Linked DNA regions of Homo sapiens: region 1 is linked to region 2. Evidence: fine-mapped expression QTL. A gene starts in region 2. The other region holds a variant in brackets. All regions are shown on one strand. Distances are from middle to middle. Region 1 holds the start of E2F1 (E2F transcription factor 1). Region 2 holds the start of CBFA2T2 (CBFA2/RUNX1 partner transcriptional co-repressor 2).

Evidence for each region. PIP is the estimated chance that this variant, and not a neighbour inherited with it, causes the effect.
Region 1: its variant is fine-mapped to the expression of CBFA2T2 in tibial nerve (GTEx, PIP 0.98).

Annotation. Positions count from the first base shown.
Region 1 is chr20:33,679,879-33,689,198 of GRCh38, forward strand. E2F1 (E2F transcription factor 1) reads right to left here and starts at 6,507. Exons shown (of 7, transcript NM_005225.3): 1 at 6,126-6,507; 2 at 448-538; 3 at 1-96. The coding sequence starts at 6,386. RefSeq lists enhancers at 1-256, 1-325, 257-875 and silencers at 5,877-6,236, 6,347-6,846. The variant A/C (reference allele first, on the strand shown) is at 4,171.
Region 2 is chr20:33,484,194-33,493,436 of GRCh38, forward strand. CBFA2T2 (CBFA2/RUNX1 partner transcriptional co-repressor 2) reads left to right here and starts at 5,903. Exons shown (of 11, transcript NM_001032999.3): 1 at 5,903-6,108. The coding sequence starts at 6,075. RefSeq lists an enhancer at 5,070-5,618 and silencers at 5,713-5,932, 5,943-6,222.

The DNA.
Region 1 (9,320 bases), 200 kb after region 2:
CACCGTCAGCCGAGTGGCTCAGCAGCTCCAGGAAGCGCTTGGTGGTCAGATTCAGTGAGGTCTCATAGCGTGACTTCTCCCCCGGGGATTTCACACCTGTGGGGGTGTGGTCAGGCAAGACAGGGCCCTTCAGCATCCACCCCCACCTCCAGCCAGGCCTGCCACTCTGGCAGTGCAGGGCAGCAGGATGATGGGGGCTGGGGGACAGCCAGCTCCTTCCCCTTGGCGAGGCCAACCACAGCATTCTTCTTCTGGCTGGGGAACTCCTCACCCCTCAGGGCCTGGAGAAACCAAGCCAGGTGGCCACTCCAACTGCCCATCAGGGTCCTCAGAGGCCTGGCTCAAGCCCGACAAGCCAGACGTTAGCTTGCAAGCATGTTTGTCTGTTCACATCCCTAACCTGGGCCTGGTCACAGGGGGTCTGCCCAGCCCAAGCTCCATAGGTACCTTTTCCTGGATGGCGGCCTCTGCCCCGAGCTGGCCCACTGCTCTCGGCCAGGTACTGATGGTCAGTTTCCAGGTCCAGCCTCCGCTTCACCTGTGGCGAAAACGGGAGGATGCCCAGTAACCAGGAGTGAGGCCAGAAGAGACCTGGCTTAAGGCTGGGTGCCTCTGGGCTACCCTCGCCTCAGTTTCTCTAGCAGGATGCCTGAGTGTGTGACTGAGGGAGATCAGAGGGGACATAGCCTGAGAGTCACAGTCCTACCACACAGGACATTCCATTTTCACCACTTCTCTGGGGTCTAGCGGTGGATTTAAAACACATCCGCAAACTTTCTGATCCTTCTCCTTCAAAAGATATAGCCTAATTCTCCCCTTATGAGCCAGACCTGGTAACTTGCTTCTGGGGATGAATGAATGGAATGTGGTGGAAGGGATGGCCTGTCACTTTTGAGACTGGGTCAGAGGCGCTGGAGCTTCCTCCTTGCTCTGTATTGGGTCACTTACTCTGCCATATCATATGGGCACTCAAGTAGCCCTAATGATGGGCAAGAAACCATGGCCTCCTCCCAACAGCAACACTTAGTCACAACTTCTGTTAGCAGCCAGAACCCAAACACTGGCTGAATCTCCAGAGACCCCAAGCCAGAGCTGGATAAGTCTTCCCTGAATTCCTGACCCACAAAAACTATATAATAAATGTTTGTTGTTTTAAGGCACTATTTTTTTTTCTTTTTTAGACAGGGTATCGCTCTGTTGACTATGCTGGAGTGCAGTGGTATGATCACAACTCTCTGCAGCCTAGACTTCCTGGGCTCAAGCAATCCTCCCACCTCAGCCTTCCAAACAGCTGGGACCACAGGCGCATCCCTCCAAGACCAGCTAACTTTTCTATTTCTCGTAGAGATGGGGTCTCCCTATGTTGCCCAGACTGGTCTCAAACTCCTAGGCTCAAGCAATTCTCCCATCTCAGCCTTCACTGTAGTCGTGCTGGGACTAGTCAGCCACCATGCCCAGCTAAGCCACTGATTACATAGGTCCCTTGGCTAAATCACCTTCTCTCTGGTTTTTGACTAATCTATACGCATGGTAGCAGCTGGTGCTCATCAAGTTCCTTGCATCCATTAGTTCATTCCATTCAACGGACTGGCTGTATAAAAATGGCCCCATTTTCCAGATAAGGCAACTAAAGCCCAGGGAGGCCCAGGAAGTGGTAGAGTCAGGATTTGTACCCAAGACGGTCTGAGGAAGAACCCAAGCTCTAAGCACTCTGGCTTAGTTCAGACACTCCAGGATTGGGACTGTCCTGGAGGTCTCACAGGCTGCTCAAAAGTACCCGGACCAAAACCAGACTGATCTTCCCCTCCACCATCCACAGGGTTTCCTGAGCTAGAGTTCCTGACCTGTCACCCTCCTCACATGCAGCTACCAAGAACTGCTCATCACCACGGCGATCACCACCTTCCCAGTGGGCTGCTGAGCAGACTCCACACTGGTCTCCCTGCCTCTGCTGCAGCCAGTCCTCCTACAAACCTTACCATGCCGCCGCCCCTGCTTAAGGCCTTCCTCCAGCTCCCCATTGCCTTTGTACTCTCATCTGCCACTGCTTCTCTAGAGGAACCCGAGTCACGTTTTCCCAGAAATCTAGACTGCCCTTGCATCCCTCCCACCCTCCCCACTTCACGCCTGCTCCCTCTACCTCTGTGGGCAGAAACCTTACGCATCAGCTAGGAGGTGTCACCTCTTCTCCCTCTGAACTGCCTCAAACCCAACCTTTTGCCACATTCTGTCTCTCCCTACACATTTCTGCAGATGTATCTATCTCACCCTCAGAGGTGTCTGAATCACTTGAGAATCTATAGTGTCTGCCATGGAGCCTGGCATCAACAAATGTTTGCTGAATGAACCCCCCCCATGCTGATGAACCACTCCCTCTTGTGCACATTCACTGACTTTTGAAGGCACCCAGGGGAAAGAAGAGCTGTTGTGCTCTAAGCACTGTGTACTCAACTGCTTCCCCTGCAACCCTCCGGCCACCTTTTGGCAGGTGCTATGATGGCCTCCACCTGAGAGAGGCCACACAGTGAGAGGTGGACCCAGGACTTGCACCCTAGTTGGCTGGTACAGAGCCCACACTCATACCCGCCACGTGCCCCACCTCCCCAGAACCCAGCCAGAATGTATCCCCCTCCATACTCGCCCCTGGGGCCCAAACCCTAGCATGCTTCTGCCATCTGCACCCCTTGCCTTCTCCCTGGGATCCCCACCCTTGTCCACCCCTGAAGGCAGGTCAGTGCCACGCCCTAAAACAAAGGCTTGAGTGGATGCCATTTCTGCCACTTCTCCCTAGATAAACACTGGCAGAGGGGCCCCGAAACGCAGGGGTGAAGACATTCACTGCTGAAAAAATCTGGATGACTCGAACACCCATCCATGAAGGGGGTCACGAAAGCTGTGCTTTGTTTAGCCCCTTGAACACCACGCAGCTGTCAAGGACCGAGGCAGGTTGACAAGAATCCCCTCACACATACAGACAAGCAAAACACTGTCACAGGGCGATATATTTATATGATCCCTTTTGGATTAAAAAGCTCATGAAACTTTTCTCTGGTTCAGTTTATATTATTATAGAATACATTTCGGGGCAGCCTCTGGAAGGACTGTGGGAGACCAGTGCCATATCTGAATGGTGTGAATGATACAGGAAAAACTACAATTTTTAAAACTTTAAAAAACAAAAACTGTCACAACCACCACAAACAAAAATAGCCTTAGGGAAAAAAAGGAAAAAAATGAATAGGGCTGGGATCCTGCCGTCAACTTTCTAGTTTCTTAAGAGTTAAGTTTTTGGCCAGGCGCAGTGGCTCACGCCTGTAATCCTGGCACTTTGGGAGGCCGAGGCGGGCAGATCACTTGAGGTCAGGAGTTCAAGACCAGCCTGACCAATATGGTGAAACCTCATCTCTACCAAAAATACAAAAATTAGCCGGGTATGGTGGTGCACGTCTGTAGTCCCAGCTACTCGGGAGGCTGAGGCAGAAGAATCGCTTGAACCCAGGAGGTAGAGGTTGCGGTGAGCCGAGATGGCGCCACTGTACTCCAACCTAGGTGACAGAGCGAGACTTCATCTCAAAAAAAAAAAAAAAAAAAAGAGTTAAGAGTTAAGTTTTCAGCTGGGCATGGTGACTCACACCTGTAATCCCAGCACTTTGAGAGGCTGAGACAGTCAGATTGTCTGAACTCAGGAGTTCAAGACCAGCCTGGGCAACATGGCAAGACCCTCTCTCTACTAAAAATACAAAAATTGGCTGGGCATGGTGGTACACGCCTGTAATCCCAGCTACTCGGGAGGCTGAGGCACAGAATAGCTTGAACTTGGGAGGCAGAGGTTGCAGTGAGCCGCAATCACGCCACTGCACTCCAGCCTGGGTAACAGAATGAGACCCTGTCTCCAAAAAAAAAATAAATAAATAAATAAAAAAGTTAAGTTTTCTACATTAAACATGTATTATAGTTATAATACTTGAGTTTGTGGAAGTGGACAGGCAGGGCCAAGAGGAATGGCTGAATTGCAGAGCCTTGTATACAGAATGCCTGCTGGTATAGAAGCTAAGCCTGTAGCTTATTTCAAGGACTGTGCCAGACAAATGCCAGTGCAGAGAGGCCAAAAGCCAAACCTGTGGACTTTCTGGACTTCAGTTCCAGAATGGTGCCAGCCTCCTGGCCCTT[A/C]AGTACACTGGGGGCCAGGGCTCCTTGTCTCTGGGCCTAGTGCCTCCTGGGCATTCACTAACTCAACAACTGTTGAATGAATGGAATGCCCAGGCCAATGAGCCTGCCCCTGACAGGTGGAGTGGAGGGCATTTTTCTTTGCCCCTGTCCCTCCCTTTGATCCTAGAACCCATAATCCTGTTCAGATCTTTGAGGACAAGACCCTCAGGTTGTTAGATTTCCGCAGACCTGAGCCTTCTATAATGCTTGTCACACAGCTGAATGGAAGATGCTTGCCCAGGTCCCAAGTGGTACCCACAGGAACAGGCCCCTGGAGTACAGGAGACAGGCCACCTGGCCCACCCCTGGTACAACCCCCTCCCACCCACTCATTAAGAGGGAGGGCCCCTAAAAGCCCTTCTTGCCCTTTCTTCAACCTGTATCAGCATCCCCAGAAAGCAAGGCATCCCAGAGGTCAACCTCAGAGGAAACGCAGACTGCTCTCCCCACTCAAGAGCAGAATGACATGGGAAGATTCTAACATCTCTAGGCCTCAGCTTCCCAATCTGTAAAAAGGGACTGCTGCTGATGGGGTTAAATGAGTTAATTAAGTAAAGCGCTTGGCACAGAGCCTGGCACACAAGACATCCTCAAAACAATGGTGGCTGCTATTGTTATTATTATTAGCATTGTGGTGATTCCGGAAGGCAGCACTGGGCATGGGGCCAAGGGGGTTGGGGGAGCCTCCTCAGGATGCCTCAGGGACCAGCTGCCACCCACACCCCCATCAGCAGTTAGGCAGCTTCTACCTCCTTGTCCTGAGTCCTGCCTCACCCCTCCCACTTGCTCCAAGTTCCCTGCTGAGACCCCATCCTGCCTGGCCAGACCCCGCCTGCACACCAGAGCCCCACCTTCACCCATAGGCTGCGCCAGTCAAACTGGTCTCCACACCCTGCCCTGTGCCCCACAGTTCCCAGCTCCAGGCTTCTACGCCTCCAATCCCTTCTCCCACTGGAATTCAGCCGCCTCTTCTGGGCCCTCCAGTCTGAATTCGTCTTGAGCTCAGCGATCAGGGAGGGCTTTATTAAAGGATCTCCCTGAGACATTTTCTCTCCTGGCACTGGGGGCCTCCTCTCCAGCTCCCAGAGGCCCAGCCCACCTAGTCCTTCTACAGAGACTCAGGGGTCGGCCTGCCTGATTAATGAGGTTCCATGGCAACCAGGGCCTGGGAGGGTGGAGGGTGGCAGATGGAAGGACAGGCAGAGGGAGGGGATCAGCAGCTGGTCCAGCTGCCCCGCCCCTGCAGAGAAGGCCTCCCAGCCAGGAGGGCTGTCCCCAGAGGCCTGGCCGGCCAGGCCTGCACCTGGCAGTCAGCATCGAGGCAGGAAGGAGGGTCTCCTCAATGGCTCACCAACGGTTAGGCCCCAGGACTTTCCTCCGCCCCGCCTTCACTTCCCCTAGCAGCTGTGCTCACTACCGAGATGCAAATTCTGAGCTGAAGCCAGCAGGCCTCAGTTCAAATCCCAGCCCCACCACCTGCAGCCGTGTGACCAGGGGCAAGTCACTTTCCCTCTCTGGGCCTCAGTTCCTCCTCCGTCAGATGGGCACAGTGACAACACAGCTCACAGCGGGGTTGTGAGTTTTAGCTGGCTTGAAGTCGCCCAAAGGCCTGGCATGCAGTAAACGCCAGTTGAATACACGTGGGCTATTATTATCACTGAGTCCGACGCTGGGGAGGCTCCGGTGAGGAAGCTGAGGCGCAGAGCACAGAGCAGCAAACAGGGACCGGCCCGAGGTCACCCCGCACCCCAGGGCGGGGCCCGGAGGCCCAACCCCGGCTCTGCACCGCCCAGCCTGGGCGCCTCAGTCAACCCCTCCCCCGCCCCCTGCCGCCTCCAGGCCAAACACGGCGCCCTCCCGGGTCTGCGCGGGGGGCACAGGCGGCGCTGTCGGCGCGGCGTCCCTGGGGTCCGTACCGGCGGGCGGCCGAGCGCGGGCCGCGGCGCACTGGGTGTGGGCCGGGGCGCCTGCGGTGTGGCGAAGAGCAGCAGGTCAGGGTCGCAGGGGCCGGCGGCGGGCGCCGCGGGGCCGGTGGGAGCCGGCGGGGCGCTGGCGTCCTGCGCGGCGGAGATGATGACGATCTGCGAGGAGTCGAGCAGCCGCAGCGCGCCGGCCCCGAGCAGGGCCTCCAGCGCCGGCGCGCATGGGCCGCCCGCAGGGGCCCCGGCCAAGGCCATGACGCTCACGGCCCGCGCGGCCCGGGTGACAGGCGGCGGCGGCGGCGCGGGCCCATGGCGGCAGGCCTCGGCGAGGGCTCGATCCCGCTCCGCCCCCGGCCGCCGCTGCCTGCAAAGTCCCGGCCACTTTTACGCGCCAAATCCTTTTTGCCGCGAAAGAGCCACGAGCCGCCGAGCGCCGCCACAATTGGCTGCCCCGGCCGTGACGGGAACAACGGCGGCGGTTCCTATTGGCTTTAACGCGCCGGACCCGGCGGCGAGGGGCGGGATGGGGCGGCGGCGCGGGGCGGTACGGCCAATGGCGGGGCGGGGCGCGCGCAGGCTTTGTCCGGATGGTACCAGGCGCGGTGTGACTCCCCGCCCCCAGCCCGGGCGTCCCCTGCTGGAGGCGTGGGGACACCGGAACATAGGCCCCGCCCCGCCCCGACGCTCCCGCATCCCACTGACCTTTCTATAGTGCAGGTTCAGAACAGAGCCTCTCTTCTGCACGTGACCCTCAACCTGTAGCCCCCAACAGCCTCAGCTTAGATTTCCAGAGACTGTCCCCTCTTCTTTTCAGGATCATCAGTTCCACAGCCCAGCCATCAGCCACCTCTTCCATCCTCAACTTGCCTCACCCATGACATTATCCTAATCCTGCACCCAGCCCTATCCCGCTCACCCAGAGCCCAAGCTGAAGAGCGGTGCCTGGAAATGGCGAGGGGGACGTCGGGCTTTCCTGCAAGTCCCATTTTAGCCAAAATCTCCAACAGCCAACGTATAGCATCTGCTTGAACTCATTCATTCCCTCACTCATTCAACAAACGTTTGGAGAGCTTGCTCTGTGCCCCATCCTCAATTCGTGGCCCTAAGGAGCTCACAGTCCAGTAGACAGGGGAACAGAAAGGTAACAGACGTTTACAATACGATGAAGTGGCGTCTGGGCGCGGTGGCTCACCACCGGAATCCCTGTAATCAGCTGGCGGGGTGGATCGCATGAGCCCAGGAGTTCGAGACCAGCCTGATCAACATGGTGAAGACCCATCTCTACAAAAAATACAAAAATTAGCCAGGCATGGTGGCGTGTGCCCGTAGTCCCAGCTACTTGGGAGGCTGAGGTGGGAGGATTGCTTGAGCCCGAGAAGTCGAGGCTGCAGTGAGCTATGATCATGCCACTGCACACCAGCCTGGGCGACAGAGCGAGATCCTGTCTCTAAAACAAAAAAAGAAAACACATCACTTCTAGGGAGCCCTCCCAAGGATTTACTCACTTCCTCTATTGCCCACTGCTGCCTCTGCTCCAATGCTGACCACACACACTCCTTTTCTCCATCTGCCTCCCCTGCCAATCTAGGAGCTCAGTAGCGACTCCTCCCAACACTGGTCTGGCCCAGAGCAGGCGCTGAGAAAGGTTATGAAAGAAACAGAGGCTAAGCCAGAGGCTGCCTAGACTGTGACAAGGAGACCACGGTTCTGCAAGGGTGGTCCTTAGGCCACTGGCTTCAGAACCACGTGGTCACTTGCTAATTTTGGGCCCACCCTGGCCCTGCCAATTTAAAATCTCTAGGTGCCCAAGAATCTGCATTTTAACAATGCCATGTCCCCTTTCCAGGTGATATTTGTTATTCTTTTTCTTTTTTTTTTTTTGACACTTAGGGAATTAGAAAAGCCAGTATCTTATTTTTTTTTTCCTATTTATTTTATATAGACGAGGTCTCACTATGTTGCCCAGGGTAGTCTCAAACCCCTGGGCTCAAGAGATCCTCCCGCCTCAGCCTCCAGCATAGCTGGTACTCCAGGTGACTGCCACCTCACCAAGCTTCCAGGTTATTTTTATGCATACTCACATTTGAAAGCAAACTGGTGTACCAGCATAATCAAAATGAGTGGTGCAGCCTCAAATCACAGCTCCTGAGGATGCTTCTCACCCTTAGTTTCAAATGGGCACACAGACCTTGCCCTGGCCCCTTCCAGGGTTGCCAGGAGAATGAAAAGCATAAGGAATTGGAAAGTGTTTTACAAACTATGAGGTGGTTTAGGAAATCAGGAGTTGTTTTCCCCTCCAATGAGTAGTTTCTGAAATTACTCATTGCAAATCCTAGAATGTATCATAGCTAGAAGGGACCACAGAGACCACATAAGCCTCTTGCTGTATGGATAGGAAAACTGAGGCCCTTTCAGGAGAAAGTAACTGTGAAGCCAACCAGTGACCAAATTGGGCCTACACTGCATTCCCAGCCCTGAGGTCTGCCTGTCCCCCTTCCCCATCCCCTCTCCATAAAGAAGCTGAGGGGTAGGTCCCATTCTAAACAACCAACGCAGGTGCTGGCAGAGAGCAAGAGAAACCAGCACATTCCCATTCCAGATGGAAAGAGTGTCCTTTCCCTGCACCTTCCCACAGGGTCCCAGTAACACTAACATTCATTTGTGTGAAGCCCTCTCAAACCCAAGTCATTCAACAAACACTTATTAAGCACCTATTATATACCAAGCACTGTGCTGGTTTAACTGTGGTGGCTGGCAAAGAGAGATGTCTATTATTATTGCTCCATTTTATGATGAGGAAATTTGAGGCCAAAAGGGCCTGAGTTTACCAAGTAGATGAAAAGGTTATTTTTCAGGCTTGGTGAGGCTGAGGTTGGGGGTTTTCCAAAGTCCTGCCCGCCCCAGAGTATTCAAGTACACATCCAGGTAGAAGTAGGCGCCCTCCGTCCCACAATCCTTCAGGTCCTGCTGAAGCAGAAAGGAGTGAAGACCAGCATTCCTAGCATGAAACTGAGGAAGAGATAAGGGCCTTCTGTACCTATTAATACCTACTTGAAAGCAGAAAAGCCTGATAGATGAGGCCCCTTGGCCCTAAGCCTGGCAGCTCCTGATAAGGCTGTTCTCAATGTCAACAGTTTTCAAAAAACAGTTTCCAAAAAATCCACAGTCACTGGGCAGCCACTTCCATTG
Region 2 (9,243 bases):
TCCTGCCTCAGCCTCCTGAGTAGCTGGGACTACAGGCTCGCGCTACCACGCCCAGCTAATTTTTTTTTTTTTTTTGAGACAAAGTCTCACTCTTGTCCCCCAGGCTGGAGTGCAATGGAACGATCTTGGCTCACTGCAACTTCTGCCTCTGGGTTCAAGTGATTCTCCTGCCTCAGCCTCCCGAGTAACTGGGATTACAGGCGCCTGCCACCATGTCCAGCTAATTTTTTTTGTATCTTTAGTAGAGACGGGGTTTCACCATGTTGGCCAGGCTGGTCTCCAGCTCCTGACCTCAGGTGATCTGCCTGTCTCGACCTCCCAAAGTGCTGGGATTACAGGTGTAAGCCACCATGCCCGGCCAATTTTTGTATTTTTAGTAGAGACGGGGTTTCACCATGTTGGCCAGGATGGTCTCAATCTCCTGACATCGTGATCCTACCACCTCAGCCTCCCAAGTAGCTAGGACTACAGAGATGCAGCACTATGAATGGCAAATGTTTGTATTTTTTGTAGAGCTGGAGTTTTGCCATGTTACCCAGCCTGGTCTTGAACTCCTGGGCTCAAGCAATCCACCTGCCTAGGCCTCCCAAAATGCTGGGATTACAGGTATGAGCTGCCATGCTTGGCCTAACCATAAATGTAATTTTTTTTCTGAGACAGAGTCTTGCTCTGTTGCCCAGGCTGGAGTGCAGTGATGTGATCTCGGCTCACTGCAGCCTTGACTTCTCAGGTTCAAGTGATCTTTCTACCTCAACCTACTAAGTAGCTAGGACCATGGTCTTGTGCCAGCATGCCTGCTAACATTTAAAATTTAGTTTTTGTAGAAACAGGGTCTCATTATGTTGCCCAGTCTGATCTTGAATTCCTAGGTTTAAGGAATCCTCCCACCTTGGCCTCCCAAAGTGCTGGGATTACAGGTGTGAACCACCGCACCTGGCCTAATATTCTTAATATATATAGGATATTCAGATGATCACCTTATTCAGTAAGCTTTAGTAGTTGGCATCTTTCTTTTTTTTTCTTTTTTTTTTTTTGAGACGGAGTCTCGCTCTGTTCTCCAGGCTGGAGTGCAGTGGCACGATCTTGGCTTACTGCAAGCTCTGTCTCCCAGGTTCACGCCATTCTCCTGCCTCAGCCTCCGGAGTAGCTGGGACTACAGACGGCCGACACCACGCCTGGCTAATTTTTTTTGTATTTTTAGTAGAGACGGGGTTTCACTGTGTTAGCCAGGATGGTCTCGATCTCCTGACCTCGTGATCTGCCCGCCTCGGCCTCCCAAAGTGCTGGGATTACAGGCGTGAGCCACCGTGCCCGGCCAGTAGTTTGTATCTTTCAAGGAAATTATTGATTTTATCTAAAATGTCAAACTTGAGGGCATAAAATTCTTCATAATAGTTCTTTTTTTTTTTTTGAAATGGAGTCTCACTCTGTCACCCAGGCTGGAGTGCACAATCTCAGCTCACTGCAACCTCCGCCTCCCGGGTTCAAGCGATTCTTGTTCTTTTTTTTTTTTTTTGAGATGGAATTTTGCTGTTGTTGCCCAGGCTGGAGTGCAGTGGCGCGATCTCGGCTCACCGCAACCTCCAACTCCCAGGTTCAAGCGATTCTTCTGCCTCAGCCTCCTGAGTAGCTGGAATTACAGGCATGAGTCACCACGTCCGGCTAATTTTGTATTTTTAGTAGAGACGGGGTTTCTCCATGTTGGTCAGGCTGGTCTCAAACTCCTGAACTCAGGTAATCCACCCACCTCGGCCTCCCAAAGTGCTGGGATTACAGGCGTGAGCCACCATGCCTGGCACGATTCTCATTTTTCAGCCTCCTGAGTAGCTGGGATTACAGGTGCATGCCACCACGCCTGGCTAATTTTTGTATTTTTAGTAGAGACGAGGTTTCATCATGCTGGCCAGGCTGGTCTCAAATTCCTGACCTCATCATCAGCCCGCCTCAGCCTCCCAAAGTGCTGGGATTACAGGCGTGAGCCACTGGGCCCGGTCTCTCTTACTTGAATCTTAAAAAGTTTGAAGGTTGGGTGTGGTAGCGCGTGCTTACAATTCTAGCACTTTGAGAGGCCCAGGCTGGAGGATTGCTTGAGCTCTAGGAGTTTAAGACCAGCCTGGGCAACACAAAGAGACACCACCTCTACTACTACTACTACTACTAATAATAATAATTAGCTGGTCGGGGTGGGTGCCATGGTTCACGACTGTAATCCCAGCACTTTGTTTTTTTTTTGTTGTTGTTGTTGTTGTTTTTTCTGAGATGGAGTCTCGCTCTGTCGCCCAGGATGGAGTGCGGTGGCGCGATCTCAGCTCACTGCAAGCTCCACCTCCCAGGTTCACGCCATTCTCCTGCCTCAGCCTTCCAAGTAGCTGGGACTACAGGCGCCCGCCACCACACCCAGCTAATTTTTTTTTTTTGTATTTTTAGTAGGGATGGGGTTTCACTGTGTTAGCCAGGATGGTCTCGATCTCCTGACCTCGTGATCCGCCAGCCTTGGCTTCCCAAAGTGCTGGGATTACAGGCGTGAGCCACCGCACCCGGTCAATAGTAATTATTTTTGAGACAGAGTCTCACTCTATCGCTAGACTGGAGTGCAGTGGCATGATCTCGACTTACCATAACCTCAGTCTCCTGGTTCAAGCGATTCTCCTGCCTCAGCCTCCCAAGTAGCTGGGATTACAGGTGCCCGCCACAATGCGAGCTAATTTTTGTATTTTTAGTAGAGATGGGGTTTCACCATGTTGGCCAGGCTGGTCTCAAACTCCTGACCTCAGGTGATCCACCTGCCTCAGCCTTCCAAAGTGCTGAGATTGCAGGCATGAGCCACCGCATCCGGCCAAATTATTATCACTCTTTTTTTGAGGCACGGTCTTGCTCTGTCACCCATGCTGGAGTGCAGTGGTCGGATCACAGCTCACTGCAGCCTTGACCTCCTGGGCTCAAGCCAATCCTCCTGCCTCAGCCTCCTGAGTAGCTGGGACTACAGGCGTGCACCACCATGCCTTGCTAATTTTTTTATTTTTTGTAGAAAGGAGGTCTCACTTTATTGCCCAGTCTTGAAAATTATTTTTTGATAGGAGCATTGGAGAGATTTTCACAAAGGAAGTGAAATTTCAGCTGGGCTGTTAACCCCATCTGAATTCCTCATAGCCTTTTAGTTGTGGTTTAGAGACCCTTCCTGGGACTCTCTGAGTACATTGGTACCTTTTATTGTGTTTTCCAAAAACGTTCTAGGGAGGGCTTTCTTCATCAGTGCTCATGGCACTTTAAAGAGTATATATATACATGCATGTTCTTTTCTTTTTTTTGAGATGAAGTTTCGCTCTTGTTGCCCAGGCTGAAGTGCAATGGCGCAATCTCGGCTCACTGCAACCTCTGCCTCCCGGGTTTAAGTGATTCTCCTGCCTCAGCCTCCTGAGTAGCTGGTGTTACAGGCATGTGCCCAGCAAATTGTGTATTTTTACTAGAGACAGGGTTCCTCCATGTTGGTCAGGCTGGTCTCGAACTCCCAACCTCAGGTGATCTGTCTGCCTCAGTCTCCCAAAGTGCTGGGATTACAGGCATGAGCCACCATGCCTGGCCACATATGTTCTTTTCTTCTCTCTCTTTTTTTTTTTTTTGTTTTGTTTTGAGACAGAGTCTTGCTTTGTGGCCCAGGCTGGAGTGCAGTGGCATGATCTTGGCTCACTGCAACTGCCACCTCCCAAGTTCAAGCCATCCTCCTGCCTCAGCCTCCTGAGTAGCTGAGACTACAGGCACACGCCACCACTCCTGGCTAACTTTTGTATTTTTAGTAGAGACAGGTTTTCACCATGTTGGCCAGGCTGGTCTCGAACTCCTGACCTTTTGTGATCTGCCCACTTCAGCCTCCCAAAGTGCTAGGATTACAGGTGTGAACCACTATACCCAGCTGGTATATGCACATATGTTCTTATTTCTACATTTTTTTTTCTTTTTTTGAGACAGGGTCTCACTCTGTTACTCACGCCTGATCTGTTAGATCAGGCCAGAGTACATTGGTCTGATCTGGGGTAACTGAAACCTCTGACTCCCTGGCTCATATGATCCTCCCACCGCAGCCTTCTGTGTAGCTGAGACTACAAGCGTGTGTGCAACACCATGTCTGGCTAATTTTTGTATTTTTTGTACAGGCGCGGTTTCCCCGTGTTACCCAGGCTAGTCTTGAACTCCTGGACTCAAGCGATCCACCTGCCTTGGCCTCCCAAAGTGCCGGGATTAGAGGCATAAACCACTGTACCCGGCCGGCCTACATTCTGTCTTTTAAAATTTGTTTTCAATACACAAGTAAAATACAAATGCATTCTATATTCTTGGTGTGAGATATCTGAAATAATACTGAGAAACAAGAGTCTTTATTCTTTTCTTTTCTTTTCAGACGGAGCTTCCCTCTGTTGCCCAGGCTAGAGTGTAGTGGCGCGATTTCGGTTCACTGCAACCTCTGCCTCCCAGGTTCAAGCGACTCTCCTGCCTCAGCCTCCCGAGTAGCTGGGATTATGGACACCCGCCACCGCGCCCAGCTAATTTTTTTGTTTTGTTTTGTTTTGTTTTTTGAGAGGGAGTCTCGCTCTGTCACCCAGGTGGGAGTGCAGTGTCGTGATCTTGGCTCGGTGCAACCTCCGCCTCCGGGGTTCAAGCAATTCTCCTGTCTCAGCCTCCTGATTAGCTGGGATTACAGGCTTGTGAAACCAAGTCCAGCTAATTTTTGTATTTTTAGTACAGACGGGGTTTCACCACGTTGGTCAGGCTGGTCTCCAAATCCTGAGCTGTGATCTGCCAGCTTCGGCGTCCCAAAGTGCTGGGATTACAGGGGTGAGCCACAGCTCCTGGCCTTGTTTTGTTTTTTTGATACGGAGTTTTGCTCTTTTTGCTCAGGCTGGAGTGCAATGGCTCCGATCTCGGCTCACTGCAACCTCCCCCTCCCGGATTCAAGTGATTCTCCTGCCCCAGCCTCCCGAGTAGCTGGGACTAAAGGCACGCGCCACCGCACCAGGCTAATTTTTGTATTTTTATTTATTTATTTTTTTAGTAGAGATAGGGTTTCACCTTATAGGCCAGACTGGTCTTCAAACTCCTGACCTCGTGATCCTCCCGCCTCGGCCTCCCAAAGTGCTAGGATTACAGGCTTGAGCCACTGCGCCCGGCTCTAAGTTTTGTATTTTTAGTAGAGACAGCGTTTCGCCACATTGGCCAGACTAGCCTCGAAGTTCTGACCTCAGGTAATCCACCCTCCTCGGCCTCCCAAAGTGTTAGGATTATAGGCCTGAGCCACCGTGCCTGGTCTATTTTTTATTTTTATTTATTTATTTTTTTAATAGAGACGCTAGTCTCAAACTCCTGAGCTCAAGTGACTCTCCTTTGGCCTCCCAAAGTACTAGGATTACAGGCGTGGGCCACCACGCCCGGCCAACAGTTATTAAAATTACGATGATGAAATTTTAGGCATTTAGAATACTTCAGGCCAAAAACACTTTGAGCCAGGGGGCTCGCTCAAAGGCATGCGCAAAAGCCATCAGGCCTGTACCTGGAGAACTCAGGTGAGACGTTGCCACTCGTTGTAATCCCTCCCCCTAGCACTCGGCCCCCGAGCCTGGGCCACTGCCCTGGCTACACCGGGAAGTCTGGAGCTAGAAAGTGGGCCGTGCGCGTGACGGGCGCGCGTGACGCCGAGGGGGCAGGTCTGAGAAGCAGGCTGCGCCGGGATTCGGCGGTCGGTTCCCGCGGAAGGGGCGGGTCAGGTTAGGGGGCGGTGCTTAATGGGAGCTGGTCTTGGGGCCGGGCTTCCGCGTGCGTTGGCCTGGCGGCGAGAGCGCGCGGCGGGGGCGTGCCCGGCGGGCGGGGCGGGGCCAGCCGGGGGCGGGGCGGGGCGCGGCCTAACGGCGGCGGCGGCGGCGGCGACGGCGACAGCAGCGGTGGTGGTGTCTGGTTAGCTCGGCGGCTGCAGATCTCGCGGCGACGCCTGCGAGGGACCCGGGCCGCGGGTCGAGGCGGGCGGCGCCTGCGAGGGACCCGTGTCGCGGGTAGAGGCGGGCGGCGCGCGGCGGCGGCGCTCGGCGATGGTAGGCGTCCCTGGAGCGGCCGCCTTCCAGCGTAAGTGGGGCGTGAATGCGGGCGGCCGAGGGGGGCGTGTGAGGGCCTGCGGCTCCGCAGGCGCGGTGATTCCGAGTGCCCCGGGCGCGAGGCCGGGAGTGGAAACTGAGGCCCGAAGCGGGGCGGCGGATCCAAGGTCACGCAGCGGGGCGGGCCTTCCCGGGCTCCTGAGGCCACCCCGTCGCTTCCTGCGCCGCCCGAAGAGCTCGGGGCTCACGGTGTGAGGGAAATTGTGGGGCCCGCGGCCTCGGAACTTAGGCCGGGCCGGCGTCCATGGGACTTGCCGGCGGGCAAGAATCATTTTGTTGTCCCAGCGCTGGGGCCACGAAGTCCGGCTCCTGGGGAAATACTACACCCGCCCGATGTTGAGGGTTGGAGGAGATGAGAATGGCCCCTCGGAGGGCCTGTTTGAGCGCAGGCTCAGTAGTTGGCTACCTGGGTTCACATCCAGGCTTCCCCATTTAGGTAGTGACCTTGGCTCTCCCGGTGCCTCAGTTCCCCCATCTGCAAAATGGGGATGTGGAGCGGGTTCCCTCCCTCCCCCAGGGTTCTTGGGTTTTGTGAGGCCAGTAAAACGCTTGACACCGACCGTGGCACACACACAATTGTGAAAACTGTCATTATTGTAATCGTCCTTTATTAATCTGATCCAGTGTGCACCGCACTCGGAAAAGTCCGAAATTAGGCTCTAGCCGTGTTAAGATTTTGTTTTGTTGTCTGTTAGTCCTGCTCCATGATCTAATTGTTATTCTTACTTCCATTTAGCCATTCCAGTATTTATCTAGTGTTCCTCCTTGATGTGTGAGATCCTTGGGGGAGGGGTGGCTTCTCTGAATAAGAACAATAAAATTTTAATTGTTTTTCATTATTGTAATTATAATAGCCAACATTTTTTTGAGCACCAGACATTTTGCATTCTATTCACTTAATATTTATTAAATCATATAGTAAGTTTAAAAATACCATTCCAGGCCCTGGGAATACAATAAACAAGATAGACCGAACTGGGGTTTTGAGTTTAGTTAGGAGAGGGAGAGACATAGTAAATGAGGAAACAGATAAACATGTTTTGCATGTTTTTTTAATTGTTTAATCTTGATGACATCCTAAGTAAGACATTATTTGAGGATGCCCATTTTGCAGAGGATGAAACTGAGTAACAGAAGGTACTCTGAGTACTAGTCTCAGAGCTGATGTCCTTAAACACGTGAAAGGGAGGCTTTACGCTTCTTTTTTTTTGCACCCATTAAATGTTGGATTGAAGATAGAAAAAGTAGATACACCCAGCTTGCAGTTACTGCTTTTGATGGTTTGATCCATTCCTCATGAAATTTCCAACTAAAGAGGCGGATAGTGATTACTCTTTTAGGCTTGCAAAGGTACAGCATCTCTGTAAAATGAAAGGCTTTTTTTTTTTTGAGACGGAATCTTGCTCTGTCGCCCAGACTGGAGTGCAGGGGTGTGATCTTGGCTCACTGCAACCTCCGTCTCCTGGGTTCAAGCTATTCTCCTGTCTCAGCCTCCGGAGTAGCTGGGACTACAGGCATATGCCACCACGCTCGGCCAATTATTTTATTTTATTTTATTATTTTTTTTGAGACGGAGTTTTGTTCTTGTTGCCCAGGCTGGAGTGCAGTAGTACAATATCGGCTCACTGCAACCTCCCCCCGCCCCAGGTTCAAGCGATTCTCCTGCATCAGCCTCCAGAGTAGCTGCGATTACAGGCGCCTGCCACCACACCTGACTAATTTTTTGCATTTTTAGTAGAGACGGTTTTACCATGTTGGCCAGGCTGGTCGTGAACTCCTGAACTCAGGGGATCCATCTGCCTCAGCCTCTCAAAGTGCTGGGATTAGAGGCATGAGCCACTGCGCCCGGCCTTAATTTTTATATTTTTAGTAGAGACAGGGTTTCACCATATTGGTCAGGCTGGTCTCGAACCCCTGACCTCAGGTAATTCACCCACCTCAGCCTCCCAAAGTGCTGGGATTACGAGCGTGAGTCACCAAGCCTGACCAGAAAGGACTTTTTATTTGAAAAAATTGGGGGGCTCTTCTGCCTATGAAGTAGTCTTCCTTTGTTTCTTTACTTCCATAATAAACTTGCTTTCACTTAAAAAAAAAAGATTGTGTCCAAATTTCTTTTGTGTAGTATTTAGTTTAAAATATGCCCAAAAGCACAACTTTTGCTTCTGTTACGTAACTACATTTTTGTTTTCTTTTTTCCTTTTTTTGAGACAGTCTCTCTCTGTCACCCAGACTGGAGTGCAGTGGCGTCATCATGGCCCACAGCAGCCTCAACCTCCTGGGTTCAAGTGATTCTCCTGCCTCAGCCACTTGAGTAGCTGGGACTCCAGGCGCCACCACACCCAGCTAATTTTTTTATTTTTTGTAGAGATGGGGTCTTGCTTTGTTGCCCATGCTAGTCCGGAAGTCCTGGGCTTGAGTAATCCTCCTTCCTCAGCCATCCAAATTGCTGGGATTAAAGTCATGAGCCACTTTGCCTGGCCTTTTTTAGTGTTTCTAAGAGAATTCTGTATTACATTCCTAGACAGTACACTTGGTGTAGTACTCAGCCTCCTGAGGAGCTGGGATTACAGGTGCTCACCACCATGCCTGGCTAATTTTTTTTTGTATTTTTTGTAGAGACGGGGTTTAACCATGTTTTGGCTGGGCTCCTGACCTCAAGTGATCTGCCCGCCTCAGCCTCCCAAAGTTCTGGGATTACAAGTGTGAGCCTCTGCACCCGCCCTTGATTGAAGTTTTGGTTTTTTTTTTTTTTTTTTTTTTTTGAGACGGAGTTTCACTCTTGTTGCTCAGGCTGGCGTGCAATGGCATGATCTCGGCTCACTGCAACCTCCGCCTCCTGGGTTCAAGCAGTTCTCCTGCCTCAGCTTCCCAAGTAGCTGGTATTACAGGTGCGTGCCAACACGTCCGGCTAATTTTTGTATTTATAGTAGAGATGGGGTTTCACTACATTGGCCAGGCTGGTCTCGAACGCCTGACCGCAGGTGATCTGCCCGCCTCGGCTTCCCAAAATGCTGGGATTACAGGCATGAGTAACTGCACCTGGCCTTGATTGAAGTTTTTAACTGGCATGCTGGGAAAGAGAATATAGGAGTTCAGTCTTAAAATC